2 separate regions of the Homo sapiens genome follow, and region 2 is linked to region 1. The links come from fine-mapping of genetic effects on gene expression. A gene starts in region 1. The other region holds a variant in brackets. All regions are shown on one strand. Distances are from middle to middle.

Region 1 (8,968 bases):
GACAACTTTGTACAAAATTCATTGACTATAAGTTTGGGGGCCTATTTCTGAATTCTCTATTCTGTTCCATTGATCTGTTTGTCTATTCTTACACCAATATCACACTGTCTTAATTAGTGTAGCTTTATAGTAAATATTGAAGCTGGCAGTGTAAGTCATTCAACTCATGCTTCCTCAAGTTTGTCTTGGCTATTCTAGGTAATATGTATTTGCATATAATTTTTAGAATTAGACCTCAATTTTTACTTAAAAAGCTTGCTGGGATTTTGATTGGGATTGCATTGAATCTATAGATCCATTTGCTAAGTGTTGACATGTTAATACTGATGACATCTTAATACTGTTTTTTAAAACAGAAATGGAGTCCTTTTGCCCATTTCTGTTGCCCAGGATGGTCTCAAACTCTTTGCCTCAAGTGATCCTCCCACCTCAGCCTCCCAAAGTGCAGGGATTACAGGCATGAGCCACTATACCTGGTCCCATCTCTTGTTTTAAAAATTTAATGTTTTGGTCTGGCATGATGGCTTATGCCGTAATCCTAACACTCTGGAAGGCTTAGGTGGGCAGATCACTTCAGCCCCAGCAGTTCAAGATCAGCCTGGGTAAGACGGTGAAACCCCATCTCTACAAAAAAAAAAAAATCCAAAAAAAAAAAAAAAAGCTGGGTGTGGTGGCACACACCTGTATTCCTGACTATTAGGGAGGTCAGGGCTGCAGTGAGCTGTAATTGTGCCACTGCACTCTCCAGCCTGAGTGACAGAGTAAGGTCATGTCACACACACACACAAAAATTAACTTTTTAAGAGACACAGTATTGCTATGTTGCCCACGCTGGTCTACAACTCCTAGGCTCAAGTGATCTTCCCGCCTCAGCTTCCCAAGTAGCTGGAACTACAAGCATGTGCCACTGTGCCCAGTCTATTTCTGTTTTTAGGCCATTGTGAATTTCTATTAGCAATATTTTTTTCTCAATGTAGAGATCATGTGACATCTTTCATTAAATTTATTCCTGAATTTTGATTTTTAAAATGCTTTTGTAAATGGCATTTTAAAATTTTCATTTTCCAGTTGTTTCATGCTAACATACAGAAGAAATACAATTGACCTTGTACCTTGTGATCCTACATTCATTTTAGTAGTTCATGGATTCTTTTGAATTTTGTACGTACACTATATCATCATTAGTGAATAAGTTTGGTTTCACCTCCTTCCAATTCATTTTCTTGTCTTATTGCACTGATAAAATTTGCAGAGATGCCAAATAACTTGCCCAAGTTCACCCAGTTAGTAAGAGCCAAGATTGAAACTCATGTCAATCTCACTCAGAATACCCTGGAATGAGTGTGGGTGTATTAATATTTGTTTTTGCTTGAGAAATAAGGGAGGTATGAATAGAGGGGGAGAAATAAGGGAGGTATGAATAGAGGGGGTATATCAAAGAGGTTCTTAATCTAAGATGAAGGATTTGAATTGTATTCCATAGTTAATGAAGGATCATTAAGTGTTTTCAAGTGGGAAAGTAACAAAATAAGACTGAGGGGATCAATCCTGTGACAGTGTACAGTATGACTTGAAGGGAGCCCATTCATTCATTTATTCATTCTTTTCATGATCATTTATTGAGTATGCATTATGTTCTAGGAGACAGAGTCTTGCTCTGTCACCAGGCTGTAGTGCAGTGGTGCGATCTTGGCTCACTGCAACCTCCGCCTCCCGGTTCAAACAATTCTCCTGCCTCAGCCTCCCAAGTAGCTGGGACTACAGGAGCGCGCCACCACACCCAGCTAATTTTTTTTTTTTTTTGTATTTTTAGTACAGACGGGGTTTCACCATGTTGGCCAGGATGGTCTCAATCTCTTAACCTCGTGATCTGCCTGCCTCGGCCTCCCAAAGTGCTGTGATTACAGGCGTGAGCCACTGCGCCCAGCCAATGTGTTTCTCAGAGTAGTAGAAATACAAGTGATGAAGAGTAGAATCCTAACACAATCTTAGATATGCAGCGAAGGCAGTTCTATGACTTTGCATTAATTTACTTGAAGTCTCTGAAGCTCAGCTTTATTGTACATAAAATGAGAATAATATACATACAATGACTACTTCAGTAAGGAAAAAATTTATGTAATATGCTTGACTTATATTAGACATTTGTTTATTGTAGTTATACTATTTAAGGGATTTAGAAGAGAGCAAACAATAAGAATGAAACATTTCATCACAGTCGTTCAATAATCAAATTGACAAACAAATGTTTTAACTGACGCCCCCACCCTATGATTACATTTTAATAGAATGAACTATAGATTTTTGCTTTGGCAATTTAGGAATGCACCAAAACAGAGATAACTGTGCTACATATTAGCTGACATAATAATATTCCCTTACATCTGTATAAAGAGCTTGATAGTTAACAAAGTACATTTATTTACACCATTTTGAGTCTTGCAACAATTACACAGATGAGGAAATTGCGATATTTAGTGACTTGTTTGAGGTCACACAGTAACTTACAGAGACCACTTCACATCATATTTATTTGCTTATATTCTATAGCTCTTTTTTACCATACTGTTACCTCTAATCTCATGATGTATGCTAGTAGTATTAACTCAAAAATAGTATAGAATCTCCCACTTTTATGCAGTTTACTTATGAAAAAAGTGAGTACTTTGAAAACTGTGGAAGAAAAGGCAGACAAAAATAGAAATTCTTGTCTTGTAGCAGTCATATTGTTCTGATTATTCCTAGGTTATATTGTTAAATATATAATTTGTCATTTTCTTTACTTTTCCATGCTGCATTTATGATTCTGCTGACATTTTTGGTGTTTCCTTGCCTCATCCATTCACGGTATGTTATTTCTACTTCCACTAAATTTCAATAATTTCCTTCCCCTTTATGATCTGCACCCACATATTTTTTCCTTGTTGTTCTCTCTTGGTAATATACCTAGTTCCTATATCTTTGCCTTCTTTTTTCTTTCCTTCTTCTTCCTTTCTTAATTTGTGTCATTGAGCCAACTTATTTACCGCCTCCTCTACCTTTTCATTTTACATTATCATAGTGATGATTCACTAAAAATTATGGCTAGTTTTAATAAACAATTGTTCTGAGGTCTCATGGGAATCAAAGTTCTTTCTAAGTATGGAAGATGTTTTTTATAAACATGTTTTATGAGCAAGGGATTGGAAGATGAGGTGGGGAAGAGGACATGAGGATCGGAATAGATACTATTATTTATATTTCACAAATTCAATGAAACAACAAACATCATACATTCCTTGTTAGGTGCTATAGCATGTACAAACAAGAACAAGACTAGGTCTTGGGCTCTGTTGCACTTACAATCTAGTGAAAGAGAAAGACAAACATATAAACAACTCTAGTGCAAGACAGACTACTGTTACAGCAAGAGCCTGAAGTTCAGAGGGCACCCAGAGATTGTACCAGAGCGCGTTTAAGTCACACAATTCAATTCAAGCTCAGGCAATTGAGTAGCACTTGGGCATGGAACTCATCTACTATGCTGTCAGACGTTTTTGTTTATTTCTTGTAAGAAAAAGTCTTCAGCCGTCGTAAGACGTTTTATTGGGTAATACGGGAATGCAATGGGGGGAGTCATTTGTTTGCAGAGGTATCATGGGTAGTTTTAAAAAGTGTGAAATCTACGATTGCAGAGGACTGATAGACTCTGGACTTCTGCCAAAATGGGAGGGATAGCAAGCAAGAAGGAGAATCTTTTTTTTAAATTTTTATTTATTTATTTATTTATTATCACAACTCCTGATAACTCACAGTTGGGGGTGAGGACAGGAAAGCAAATCGGGAGTTCAGAATTGTGACAAACCTCAGGTGACTACTACCCCATTGTAGACAAGCTACAGACTGGTATTAGCAGAAGATAGGCCATAAACAAACTCTCCATTTCCTCTCAACGCTTTGGGAACATAATTCTATTATTCCAGCTAGCTAAAAAAAAAAAAAAAAAAAAAAAAAAAAAACCTTTAAAAATATACATTAATACATAGTCAATGCAAACATTTCAAACATTAGATAGGTGTGCAAAATAAAAAGTGGAAGTGCCTCATCACCCACTTCTTACACTCCCCAGCGCTAACATTTGTTGTTATAGGCTTCCAAGCATTTTCTATCCACAAACAAACACAGACACACACACCCCACACATTTTTTTTATTCTTTTCCCAAATAAAATTGGCGGTACACCCACAAATTTTAGGATGAAGACATGTTTAAAAGCATGGGCTTTGGAGCTCACCAGAACTGGGCTCACATCCTCTCCAACTACTGGCTGTGACCCTGGGCAAATTACTTTAAGCTTCAATTTTTTGTGTGAAGTGAAAAGCGGCAATGACTTCGGAAGGTTTGAGGATTAAGGCCTATAGCATATATACATCACCTAGCACAGTCAGATTCACAGTAAGTGTTCAATAAACACTCTTATTGTCTACCGCAAGTGACCTTTCTCATTATAAGATTAAAATCAGGGAATATGTTCCTCTCATAGTTTGATAACTGCCATTAAACAAAAGTTTTTTTTTTCAACTAATTACCGTATAAGTTGGAAAAAAAACTTGCTTTTCCAAAGCGTAAAACAGATTGGTCTAAGTAACACTTAAATGGGGGTTCTCGCATTTTCAGTGCCAATCTCCTACGTCCCCTCAGTACTTTGTTCACGGATGTCTAGAGAATGGACTTTCCAATACAAACTTATGATTTCATGATGTGCCGAAAATTCTCAACCAGGTTAAGTTTCACACTCTGTGTGCAGCATTTGCTTTATCCCGCAATTGCCGGGTGGTGCCCCTTCCAGCTCCCACAGTCGCGCCTCTCCATCCCCTCTGGAGCTAGGACTGCAATGGGAGAAGCCTCTCCCTGTTGGAGCCGTAGGGGACTTGACGGATGCGGGGCGCCTCCGGGGAGCAGCGGCAGGACCGGGAGTTGGGTAGGGTGAGGTGCGCCCGAGGGGGTGCAGGGTGCTGGCCGAAGGGTCCGGCCGGACGGGCGCGAGGGTCCTCTGCTGGCGACCCTGGAACTCGGCTCTCCCCGATCTTCGTCCTGGGGCACCGTCCCTGCCGTCTGCAGCCCCCAGGCCCCACTGCCTCTAACTCAGCGGCCCAGGCCCGTCCCAGTCGCTAGTTTTCTTTTTGGCATTGCCCTTTGCCCTCCCATGCAGTCCTCTGTTGACTCTCTCTTCAGTTCCAGTCACCTCTAGGTCACCCTCCCTCTACCACAGTCACCCATTTTGTCCCCTGTCCCCTTACTCTTCTTCACCTCTCCCCGGGCCGCCTTCTCAGAGGACTCTGCCGACGGAGATGCTGCGGACCCCGCGGCCAGGGGCTGCTCCCCGGACAACCCTGCGTCCACCTTTGCCCCTTCCTCGGGGGCGCGAGAGGCAAGTTTCCGCCCCGTCCTTTTCCCGGTGACAGGACTTGGCGGCGGCCACTGCCGGGGAGGCAGAGGGAGGGACGGCCTGGCTCCCGAGCCCCCTCCCCTGCTCGCGAGCTCGCGCTGTCTGTCTCTCCGCAAGTGCGGAGACGCGGAGGAGGAGGAGGAGGAGGAGGAGGAGGAGGGAGTTGGGGGAGGATCTCCATTGAAATAAACAACCAGGCAGCAGTTATTAACACGGGAACATGGCGGCCGCAGCCTCGGCTACAGCTTCGGCGGCGAAGGTCAGCGCCGACGGCAGCCGGCACCTGACGGCGTGACCGACCCGAGCCGGTAACCGCGCCTTCCCCCGGGGCCGCGAGGGCGGGCGGGGGGCGGGCGGCAGGCGGGGGGCGCCGCGTCCCCACCCCCGGCCGCGACTGCCCTTCCTGCGCCGAGCTCCGACAGAGCCGTGCGCCTCCGAGAGGCTGTTTTTGTGTGCGGGGACCGCCGCCGGAGTGCGCGGAAAACGGGAGTTGCATCCCGGAGGCGCAGCGACGCTGGGGAGTTGGGGCTTGGGGGTGGGGAGGGCGGGAAGCGACGGGGAGACGCGGAGTCCCCGGGAGAGAAAGGAGGCGCTCCAGCGCCTTGCGAGAGCTCAGGAGACGAGTCCCGGAGCGCGAGGCGGGCGGAGGCTGCAGCCCGCGGCGCGGGCGAGAGGTGAGCGCCGAGGCGCGGCCGGGGGTGCGGGCGCGGCCCCCGCCCCGAGGAGCGAGTGCCCATTGCCCAGCCCGGTGCGGGGTCGGCGGAGACCGAGGCTCTAACCCCTCGGGGGCAGCGCGGCAGAGCCGAGAAGGTGAATCCTGGGAAGGTGCATTCTTTAATGGAAGCGCGGAGCGGCTGCAGCGGAGAGTGGGAGCCGGGCGAGGGGAGGCAGGACTCGGGAAGTGCTGGGGGTGTGTGAAGGTGAAGCGGGGTGTCGGGGCGGCCGGCGAGCTGCAGCGCGGGGCGGGGAAGGGGAGCCGCGGCCCGGCGGGTGGCCCGGGCCCGTGTCAGCCCCGGGGGTGGGGGGCGAGGGGCGCCGAGCACCGCGGGCGGACGGGAAGGAGCTGCGGCGGGCGGGGCGGGCGGCGCGCTGGGGCCGAGCAGGCCGGGCCGTGGTGGGGGCGGGGAGCCGGGGGCCGGGCCCCGGCGGCGCCGAGCCGGGCTCGCCCCTGACTGAACTTTCTGGGTGCGGGCGTGTATGCAGGAGGCGCGCTGGGGCCGGGGCCGGGGGCGGGAGGCGGACCGGGAGGTTCCGGGTTGGCTCGCCAGCGCCCCCTTTTCTCGCCCCCTTCTCTCCGCCCCTGAAGGGACAGGCCCTCGGGGCCCCAGGCGGGAAGCGGGAGGGGCCCTGTGGCCGCCTCGCGACGGTCACGCCCCGGGCACGGGGACCCGGCCCTCTCGGGCCCCTGGGGGGTGCTGGGGGAGGGGGCCGGGGTCGTCGCTGCCGGCTGCGCTCCCCGCCTCCTCCCCTCGGGGGAGTCCCAGAGGCGCCTCTTCCGAGACCGGGGGTGGGTCGGTCCCTGGTTAGATGGCCCCTCCCTCTTCCCCTCCCTCTAGTGGTTTCCGGGGCCTGCGGGACCGAGGGGCGGGAATCGGGGACTGGAGCCCCCTTCCGCTGGCCCGGAGCTGGACTGGGCCTCCCGCGTTCTGGGTCCGTCACTGGTAGGGGAAACTTTCCCAAACCAGAGACCGAGCCTGAACACCTTCCTCCGCCACCTCGTCCTCTAATCCCACTCCCTCTCCACCTCCTCCGACGCCTTCCCCTCCCACCGACCCGAATCTCGGTGCGTCTGACTGATGGGGCAGTGAGCCAATCGAAGGCAGGGAGCTGACCTGCCGGGTGTCGGTGAGCCAATCGTGCGGACCGGAGGAAGGAAGGGGGCGGGGTTTCTCCTGACCAGTTAGAGCAGAGTTGCATGCGGGGCGGGGGAGTCATGGAGACGCTGAGAGCCAGCTACTCTTGTCCATCCCCGAGTCACCCGCTCCTTGATTTCTGGGGTTGTGTCACTTATAGGGGCTCCGACCCGCAGAGGCTGCCGAGGCACTCGAGGTCCTGTATGTCTTTCGTACCGAAATAGACGTTGTCTTAGACACGACGAAGTCTAAAGCCACTTTAGGATGTGGCAGTAACTCACCGAGGCCGGTTTCTAAAATGGCATATGCTGTAGTGATCATGTCCTGGACCTCAGCGTCCGGTTTACATGCTAAGGGTCACAGAAGACAGAAGTTACCCGTTTACCTCTTATCTCGGTTTCACTCAGCTATGCCAGAATGGGGACAATGAAATTTGAAAGGGAACCCTGAGAATGAAGGCATGGGAGCAGTATCACGTCAACTGATTATTGGTAGTAGAAAGCATCATTGTTCATAATGGCTTCACTGGTTTCTTGTTTAATTAGAGCTCCAGTTCCCAAAGTGTACTTGAAACTTCGGCATTGGGGATGTCATTAAAAAAAAAAGTTGTGGTTTATGGTATGCATTTTTTTTTCTTTTTGCAAACAAAATGAAGTTGGGAACTAAAGCATCACTGATTGAAACATTAAGTGTGGGTATTTAAGGAGCAAAGCTAATCAAAGAATATTTGTCTACAGGAAAAAGTCTGAGTAAAATGTAGTTTGCCAGATTACTCCCACACAAAAGATTCTTAAAAATAATTTTAATTTTCTTAAACACTGCTGAATTGTACAGTGTGTGGGTACTTTTCTGGTTTATACAAGGTTTGGAGACATCTTTGGTTTTAACTGTTTATTGCGCGTTCAGTCAAGTGACTTTCTCAACTCTTGACTTTTAGGAACAGAGGTCTTTGATTCTCTGTAAAGATCACAGGTTGCTCTGCAGGAATAGCAGTCTTTTAAAAAGAAAGCAGCTGCTACAAAGCATGTGTGTGTGCGCGTGTGTGTGTGTGTATGTGTGTGTGTGTTCCTGTTCTTTGTTGGTGAGGTTAGGCACACTGACAGAAGTAATGCTCCCTTTCTCACCTGGAATTTGTAGAATCTTTGGGAGCTCAAAGAATGAAAAGTGTTAGATTAAGAATGAATTCATTGATTTTTGTCATAAGTATCCCATGAATTTAATTTTGGGAGTGTTTTCTTTTAGGTATCTTATGTGGAAAATGTGTATCTTTTCTATAAGTCAAGCTTTTATTAATCTTGGGTTGCTAAGAAAGAATCGAAGGGGACTGCAGTTCTAGGGAACAGTATTTGCCAAATCTTACAAATGTGTTCTGTTGTAATATAGTGTTTTCAAATTTACCATGAGAATTCCCAATTCAGGATCATTTTGGGTGCATGTAGACAAGAATTAATTGCATTTTGCTGTGGCTCTTGAGATGTTTTTTGTAATAAAATAGTAAAAACAGAGAAGGTAAACCAAACACTTAGACTGACAGAGAGGTAAGGAGTATTAAAAACAACATTCAAAATTTGACAACATTCAAAACCCCCCACCATTTGTTAATTTAGTTACTTATGGGCACTCTGACATATGCCCTTCTCTCTTTTGTATGCTGAAGAGCAACACATTATTTTACTTAATTCTTTGC
Region 2 (8,968 bases), 120 kb after region 1:
TTTTCTGTTGTAAACATGATATGCTATTAATATGAATCAGCATTCTTTCTCTCATGCAATATTAGAAATTTTAGATTGTAAGTGGCATCTGTGGTTCATTGGATAAATCACTTTTCTTGCAAAGAACAGATTGTTTGAAATATAGTGACTATAGAATTACTTAGAACCTTTATCTTGAAAAATTTGATAGTTTGTATCTCTGGGAAAAATACTTTAACTATTGAAGAAATGAAGTTTAGTATATAGCCTTGCAGTATATCAGGAGTTGGTTCAGATAGAACTTTAGCTTCTCTTACTTAGTTTATTTTCAAAGCTGAGTAGGACATACTATGTAAAAATATAATTATTATATTTTGGGTCTTAAATTTATAAAGTGGACAAAATGTTCTGAAGGACAACTTTGTTGAATATACCTTAAGATTTTGATTTGAAAATATTATTATTTATATACTTCCTTAGACTTTCCAAAAGAGTTGTATCTATGAGTGTAAATGCAAATTCCAGATTTGAGTATATGAAAAATGGAATTCTGTAGTTTGAGTTAAAAAGACAAAACTTATTGAACAGACTGAACTATGATTTTTAATGTACAGCTAGGTCAGTATTTCCGTTCTAGTCTCACATTTTAAGCATTTTTAAAGTTAGCCAATAAAATTTACTTGGCATTGATAATCAAAACAGGAGCAAGAGTTATATAAATCTATTTGGCAATATAGCTTTGAAATGTAATTTTCCTTTCACTACAGAAAGTTGAACTCACTGTGGATTTATATAGACCTTGGATTTATTTATAAGTTTTCTCTGTGTTGGAAGATTTGGGTGGGAGGATAGGGTGAAGGTAGGTTGGTGAATTGTTCACACATGCTAAGTACAGCCCAACTCTTAAATACCAACATGGGGGAGAAGTTCTCCACTGTACAATAAAACACAATATATACTTCATGTAGTACCAGTTTACTTTGTTGTTGTGTACTAAGTGCTATATACTAAAAATTAAGCATATCAAGGCCTAAGAGAAACTTTGACCATATTGGATATGACATGGTTGAAATACATTTCAAATGAATATTTGTTGGAGTTTTTAATCCCTCCTTTGTTCATAGATGTGAGAAGATTTGTGATTAGATATCTGATTTAACTGGATGTATATGTATCCATGAAGATATGGGCACTTTGATTTGAGGTACAGGTATCAGGCTTTGGGCACTATCTACTGAAAATCAGTATTAATCTAAACTAAAATTGAGAATACTGAAATATATATCTTTTGCTTTAGGCAAAATCTGCCCATATTTATTTATATCACTATTTTTGTGGTATTTTCTTCAAATGACAGCATGGTAGGCACTGTCATCTGTAGAATTAAAAAAAAAATTTAAGTTGACAAAATGCCCTCAGTCATTTAACTGTTCAGAGTAGAATCACGATCCTGGTCTCACAGGGTAGACTCCTCTGCACTTAATACGCAGAACGGACTACTGAACTCAGGATGATGTAGGCTCACATTGAAATGATCTTCTGATGGGTGTTGTTGACACAAAGCCAGCAGTTGGAAACTGACAGGCAGTTTACTCTTTTCTTGTTGTTTTCTTCCTTTTATGTGCACACATTAGTGTGAACCGGTTAGCTTAGTTTTCCTCATTAAACTAAATCATTCAGCACCATTAACTCTCCTTTCTCTCTTCCTGACTTCCTTTTACCCTTAGGCCATCCCTAGCCTAGGCTAAGTGCTATAGGAAATACAAAGAATGGTTGCCAAAAATTATTAAATTAAAAAGGATTATCTATCCATGCAAGTTTAACTCCATGTTTCCTTGTTCGATATTTTTACATTGTGTTTAGGTTTTCTGATTCTTTTTTTTTTTTTTTTTCCTGAGATGGAGTCTTTGTTGCCCAGGCTGGAGTGCAGTGGCAAGATCACAGCTCACTGCAGCCTCTGCCTCCTGGATTTAAGCGATTCTCCTGCCTCAGGGCTGGGTGCGGTGGCTCACACCTGTAATCCCAGCTCTTTGGGATTCCCAGGCGGCAGATCACGAGGTCAAGAGATCGAGACCATCCTGGCCAACATGGTGAAACCCCATCTCTACTAAAAATACAAAAATTAGCTGGGCATGGTGGCGTGTGCCTGTAGTCCCAGCTACTTGGGAGGCTGAGGTGGGAGAATCGCTTGAACCCAGGAGGTGGAGGTTGCAGTGAGCCGAGATCACGCCACCGCACTGCAACCTGGCCACTGCACGCCAGCCTGGCGACAGAGCAGGACTTCCTCTCAAAAACAAACAAACAAAAAACAGGGCACTGATTTCTGAATTATATGTCTCCCTATTCAAAGTCTTTTTTTTTTTTTTTGAGACGGCGTCTCGCTCTGTTGCCCAGGCTGGAGTGCAGTGGGTGGATCTCAGCTCACTGCAAGCTCCGCCTCCCAGGTTCATGCCATTCTCCTGCCTCAGCCCCCGAGTAGCTGGGACTACAGGCGCCCGCCACCGCACCCGGCTACGGGGTTTCACCGTGTTAGCCAGGATGGTCTCAATCTACTGACCTTGTGATCCGCCCGCCTCGGCCTCCCAAAGTGCTGGGATTACAGGCGTGAGCCACTGCGCCCGCCCGGCCAACTTATTCAAAGTCTTAATCTGTCCATGTGAATCGAGGTTAAAGCAGTAGCAACAACAACAAAATGCTATCATTAGTAAATGTTTTGTTTATTACTTAGTGTTAACAGAGCTCTCAGAGTGTGCTCTTAGGAAGACACGCACCTCTTAAGGTAGGTGTGTCTTGCTTAGTGAGGTTGAACAAATCACAGTCCAGGCAATCTTCATTCTGCATGATGGCATTGCTGTCTTCATATGGACAGACAAGTAGAATGATGTTGGAAATCATGTATTTAGAATTAGACAGTAATTTAATTTTTTTTTCAGAATGCACAAGGATGTTGTTTCTTGGAGTATAAGAGAATTGAATTTTAGCTTAGAGCCACTTTACTGTGGGAGCAACTTTTTTTAAATTGAAAATTTCTAAGTGTGACCTCTGTTGGCATAGCTGGTATTCTTTGAAAGTAATTAAAATGAAAAGTATTACCAGTCCATATCTTGTGTAAATCTTTTGAGTTAGCATGTTTAGAGGAGGTAGGACTGGTGTCAGAATATTCTGAGAAAGTTAGGGTGGGCCATAATTTCTCAGCTATGCTTTCTGTACTAGAAAACAGGAGAGATTTATGCATAGGAGTGGGATAAGTGGTTTAATAGATTGTTAATAAAATACATATCTGTTTGTTGTTTTTGTTGTTGGTCCTTAGGGTTCAATTCAAACTTGAATATTCCACTTGTCTGGGTGGTACAGTTGTTAGCTTCAGGGAGAAGGTCTGTGACAAGTAGAATTTCACATAAATGCCACCACAGTAACTTTTGAAATACTTGGCATTAGATTTGGGTCAGTTAGTAGGATTTTTAGCTAGGCTGTTCACTTTCACTTTGGAAGGCAAATGCCAGATGTATGTTATTTTCTAGGCAGGTGCTGAATTTGAGTCAGCTAACTTTGCCAGAATCCCCTTAAAGATAAAATAGCAAGTAAAGTCAGGCTGTTTCCATCAAACACCTTATAGTTTTGTTTTTTTTTTAAGCTGAAATTCATACATGTTATTTTGAACCATTTATAACATCTAGATACAAGGGTCTAAATTAAGCATTTATAAAATTATCCATAGCCATGCAATTAAGTTTTTTTTATTTTACTGTGATTCTTTAGCATTAGGATATAGGTATTTCTATTTATTTTGACTTGTATTGCTAGCTTGAGACTCAGTATAATGGGAGAAAACCAGAGAAATTAACAGTAAGCTTTGCAAATTATGATTTTTATCTTAATTCCATGCATTAGGTTGTCTAAGCCTTGTTTGCTATTTCATGAATGATTCATGGATGTCTATAATCAATGGAAATAGGCCGGGCGCGTTGGCTCACACCTGTAATCCCAGCACTTTGAGAGGCCGAGGCAGGCGGATCACGAGGTTAGGAGATCGAGACCATCCTGGCTAACATGGTGAAACCCCGTGTCTACTAAAAATACAAAAAATTAGCCGGGTGTGGTGGCAGGCGCCTGTAGTCCCAGCTATTTGGGAGGCTGAGGCAGGAGAATGGTGTGAACCCAGGAGGCGGAGCTGGTAGTGAGCCGAGAAATCGCGCCACTGCACTCTAGCCTGGGCAACAGAGCGAGACTCCATCTCAAAAAAAAAAAAAAAAAAA[AT/T]CAATGGAAATGTATTTTTTGGCCTAGGCACCATTATATTTTGCCTTCTCATCTACAAAGATTAAAGAGAAAGTAAGAAGTATACGTAGGGGTAGCATTTAGCTGAGGCCTAGGCACCATTATATTTTGCCTTCTCATCTACAAAGATTAAAGAGAAAGTAAGAAGTATACGTAGGGGTAGCATTTAGCTGAGCACAGTGGCGTGTTCTGTAGTCCCAGCTACTCAGGAGCCTTGAGGCAGGAGGATTGCTTGAGCCCAAGAGTTGGAGGCTGTAGTGTGTCCTGATTACCTGTGAATAGCCACTGCACCCCAGCTTGGGCGACATAGCAAGATCCAGTCTCTTAAAGAAAAAAAAAAGTGTGTAGCACTTAATAATGGCCAAGTAGGGAGTCAACATACAGTTTAAATCAATGTAGTCCAATTTTGAGGAGGATCTTTTAACTGCATGCTTCCATGCAAGGTTGCTTTTGTGGTGCCACTGTGTATGGAATTGTTTGTTTTCACTACTTTTTAAAAAGTAGAATTAAGGACTTCCTTTTTTTAAACCAACAGTTTTGGCTTTTTTGGTGCCAGTTACATAAATTTTACAAGCAGAAGTCACACATTAGTGTCAACCTAATGGTCTGGAAATTTGTTAACTATCAGTATGACAGAACCCCAGCATGGTTTTATCATGTTTCCCTGAGAAGTGAAAAGAACTGGGAAAGCAAGGATGTGATAGGCCAGAGTTTCAGTGGAAGGATGAATGGGGAAATTTTTAAGATACCTACCAGTGTTGGATATGAGTACTGAGACTTTTAAATCTTTACCTAGACTATAAAAGACTATCTTTAAAAGAAACAGCTGTGTCATAATTATTGAATTGGTAGCTTATTCTAGAATATAGAGAGTAGTGGCCAGTGAAAACAGTTCATCTCTCAACTTTTCAATTCTTTGTCATTAAAAAGGCTATTTGATCTAGATTACTAATTCTTCCTTTTAAGTGGCGGTTTTATTACAGTCCAGAAAACACTTCTGTTTCCTGGGTTATAAGACAGAGTATGAAAATAGAAGATAGTTTTGAACTCATGTATTTTGAAACTGTATCATGATTACTTACGCTATTATATTTGAATAGAATAGAAATATAAAATTCTTTGACTTAAACATCTATTGGACAAATTGGTTTGATGAGTTTCTTATTAATATAAAACAGTAGATTTTATTTTATTAACTGAGTAGAATTTAGATTTTTTTGTAACTAGATGCTTTGGGAACAGTTAAATTTTTTCTCTAATATAGAGGTTAGATGTTTAATTGTTGCTGCTGCTTCAAAATATTCACAAAATTTCATAAAATCTTTATTGTCTGACACATAAACTATTTGCACTTGTGCGCTGACATATTGCGTATCAAAGTCAGGTTCAAATTTCCTCTTTAAAGTATCTTTTGGAAATAGGAAATGATAGCCTTTTGTAAAATATTGCTGTTATCTTTTAAATGTATTTTTAACATATCCTAAATGCAGAAGCATGTTCCTTTAAACCGTAATGTGTGTGCCCTGTGTTTATCTATTTCCAATATTGTAATTTATTTCTTCCTTTTTTTTTTTTGTTTTTGTTTTGAGACAGGGTTTCGCTCTGTTGCCCAGGCTAGAGTGCAGTGGCGCAATCTCCGCTCACTGCAACCTCTGCCTTCTGGGTTCAAGCGATTCTCCTGCCTCAGCTTCCCCGAGTAGCTGTGACTAAAGGTGCGCACCACCATGCTGGCTAATTTTTTTTGTATTTTTAGTAGAGATGGGGTTTCGCCATTTGGCCAGGCTGGTCTTGAACTCCTAACCTCAGGGGATCTGCCCACCTTGGCCTCCCAAAGTGCTGAGATTACAGGCATGAGCCACACACCGGCCTATTTCCTCCATATTTTTAAAAGGAAAAAAAATAACCCTTCCTCTTTCACATCATAGTGAATAAAAAATTCTTGGAACTGAAAGATCATTTATAATAGCTAGCATGCCTATTGTGCTTATCATGTGCCAAGTAGTGTTCTAAGCCTTTCTCATAGTAATTCACATAATCCTCAAACCTATGATGTAGCTGCTATTATGATCCTATTTTAAAGACGGGTAGACAAAGGCACTGAGAAGTTAAATAACTTGCCCAGTGATTTGCACCTAATTAGCCAGTTAGAGGCCAAATTGGGAATCCAGCCCAATCTGGCATTTGCAGTTTTTGGCTTGTGAAACTTGGTTCTCTTAAAACAAACAAACAAACAAGCAAAAGACGGAGAAAGCCAAAAAAGAATTAACTAGTAATTTTCAAAATAAAGTTTCAGGCTGACTTTGTCATTATAGGTAAGGCTGTGACAAGGCTTAATGCTGTGTATGCCATTTTCTCTACAGTGAGGGTCTGCAGGCTCATATCATTGTGGCTACTAGCTAGACTGAAGTCCATGAAGTTGATAAATTGCCTATTTTATCAGACATGATAATCTGCCATTAATTAACAAAGGAAATGCAGGTTACAGAAATGATATTATGCTGTTTCGTGGCTTCAAATGAGGTTACACAGATAATGCTTTCAATAGGATGTGTGTTTAGCTTTTCTATTAACATGGTTATTTTGTTTTGAAAGATGGAAAAACAGGGCCCAGCCCTACTCCCTTTGATTCGTCTCTTTAAAAATGACTTCACAAGTTTTATTCAGTAAAAAAATTCTTAAAAAGTAATTTAGAATTCCCATAATCAGAAGCCTATATAGGACCTTTTTACGCAAAGTTGAAGAAAGTTTTCAATTCTAAAGCAAATTTCAGCTTTGATTTAGAAAAGAGTACATTCTTTTGTTCCAGCAGTGAAAAGAAAAAAATTTAAAAAAGAGAAAATACTACATTCTAAGAGTGACTAGAGAATCCTTTCAATTACTTTTAAAAACCTAATTAATTAATTAATTAATTAATATATTTTTTGAGACAGGATCTTGCTCTTTCACCCAGGCCGAAGTGCAGTGGTGCAGTCATAGCTCACTGCAGCCTCGACCTCCCGAGCTAGATTGATCCTCCTGCCTCAGTGTCCTGATTAGCTGAGATTACAGGTGTATACCACCACATCCGGCTAATTTTTGTATTTTTTTGTAGAGACAGGATTTAAGCATGTTGGCCAGGCTAGTCTCTAACTCCCGGGCTCAAGTGATCCGCCCATCTCTGCCTCCCTAAATGCTGGGTTTACAAGCATGAGCCACCACACCTGGCCAAAAAACCCTTAATTTATATTGGACAGTTTTTGTTTCATTTTGACTATATTTCAGATTATCATACCTTAACAGACATGGCCTTTTTATTTTATAAAATGTTAAGAAAAATAGGCCATCCTTTCTCTCAGATTTCCCCGGGTTTTGTTTTGTTTTAAATATATATAGGGGAAATTACAGCTGCTCTTTACAATCAATACACAGGGTTTTTGGTTGCTTATGAGTATCTGTGATATAATTAACAGTATTTACCATGAACACAAAAAGAGGTTTTAATTGCTTACTACCTAGAATTTACTTTATTCACAACTGCCGTTTTCTTTTTCTCTTGTCTTTTAAAGCAATTTCTAAGCATACATAGTAAAGATAATTTAATTAATAATGTGAAATATGTTTTTAGTGTTTGAGCAATTCATGCTGTTTCTTAAATCACTGGTTAAATCCACCTTTAAAATTTTATCTTTGAGTATTTATATTGTAGCTCACGGTTAAGTCTCTTGAAAAGTTTGTTTCATTTACTTTCTAGCAAGGGTTTGACCACATCTTTTTAAAACAGAGATGGAAATATATATGTATATTTCCTTTTCCTTTTTCTTGCTCTGTCACCAGACTGGAGTGCAGTGGCACAATCATAGCTCACTGCAACCTTGAACTCCTGGGCAGAGGTGATCCTCCTCCCTCAGTCAACATGCCCAGCTAATTTTTTATTTTTTTGTAGAGACAAGTCTCGTTATGTTGCCCAGGCTGATCTTGAACTCCTGGGCTCAAGTGATCCTCCCACCTCAGCCTCCCAAAGCACTGGGATTACAGGCATGAGCCACTGTACACAGCCTGGAAATATTTTTTATACATTAGAATATAAAGAAGTGCAAATTTAAGAAGGAAACTTTTCTTGCATACCTACATTCTGCTAGGCATAATATGCTTTTTATTTCATCAAATTCTTACCAGTAGCTTGGGAGAGAGAACTTACCCCATTTTTAGCTGAAAACACTAAGGTATAGAGAGATGAATTAAATCATATTGTCAGGTAGGTAGTTCTGGAATTTGAACCTGAAACTATATATTTCCAAAAATCTCTTTCTGATATGACATAGAGCCTCCTCTAGTGATACAAATGGAACTTGTTGATTACATGAAAGCCCTGATTTGTTTTTCATTCCCCATCCAACCGGTAGCATTTTTCAATTTAGTCTGTACTCATTTCTGGAGCAATGATAGTGCATGCAGTAAAGTAGTCATGTTTTAGGTATACAGAAGCAATATATATAGTCCTACCCACATCTTACGGTGTAGTAAGAGAAATGGCAAACATTAAGTTACGTGAATGGGATTACAAAGCAGTGTATCAACAAATGTACAATAATGTAGTAGGCATAGAGTGCAGGAAGGGCAGTGGGCACTGTGCCCATGGCTGTCTGTCTCTCAGTGTTCTTCGCCATGTGCGTATCTTGCTATGAAGGCTACAACCTGCCATCTATTTTAGATCATCACAACAGGAGTAGTTAGA

Direction of the effects. Alleles are on the strand shown, and positions count from the first base shown. SD is a standard deviation of normalised expression in the study named.
As copies of AT replace T in region 2, the expression in Th1/17 cells of the gene that starts at base 5,628 in region 1 goes up (moderate effect, 0.59 SD a copy in Schmiedel 2018).

Evidence for each region. PIP is the estimated chance that this variant, and not a neighbour inherited with it, causes the effect. A credible set is the group of variants that fine-mapping cannot tell apart.
Region 2: its variant is the best candidate, but not a certain one, in a credible set for the expression of NCOA2 in Th1/17 cells (Schmiedel 2018, PIP 0.53).

The regions. Positions count from the first base shown.
Region 1 is chr8:70,400,468-70,409,435 of GRCh38, reverse strand. NCOA2 (nuclear receptor coactivator 2) reads left to right here and starts at 5,628. Exons shown (of 23, transcript NM_006540.4): 1 at 5,628-5,736. RefSeq lists silencers at 4,852-5,011, 5,702-6,011, 6,052-6,341, 6,372-7,031 and an enhancer at 5,112-5,231.
Region 2 is chr8:70,285,453-70,294,420 of GRCh38, reverse strand. All of the region lies in intron 2 of NCOA2 (nuclear receptor coactivator 2), which reads left to right. Among named protein-coding and RNA genes, the nearest start is that of NCOA2, 110 kb to the left of the region's middle. RefSeq lists an enhancer at 2,189-2,929. The variant AT/T (reference allele first, on the strand shown) is at 4,236.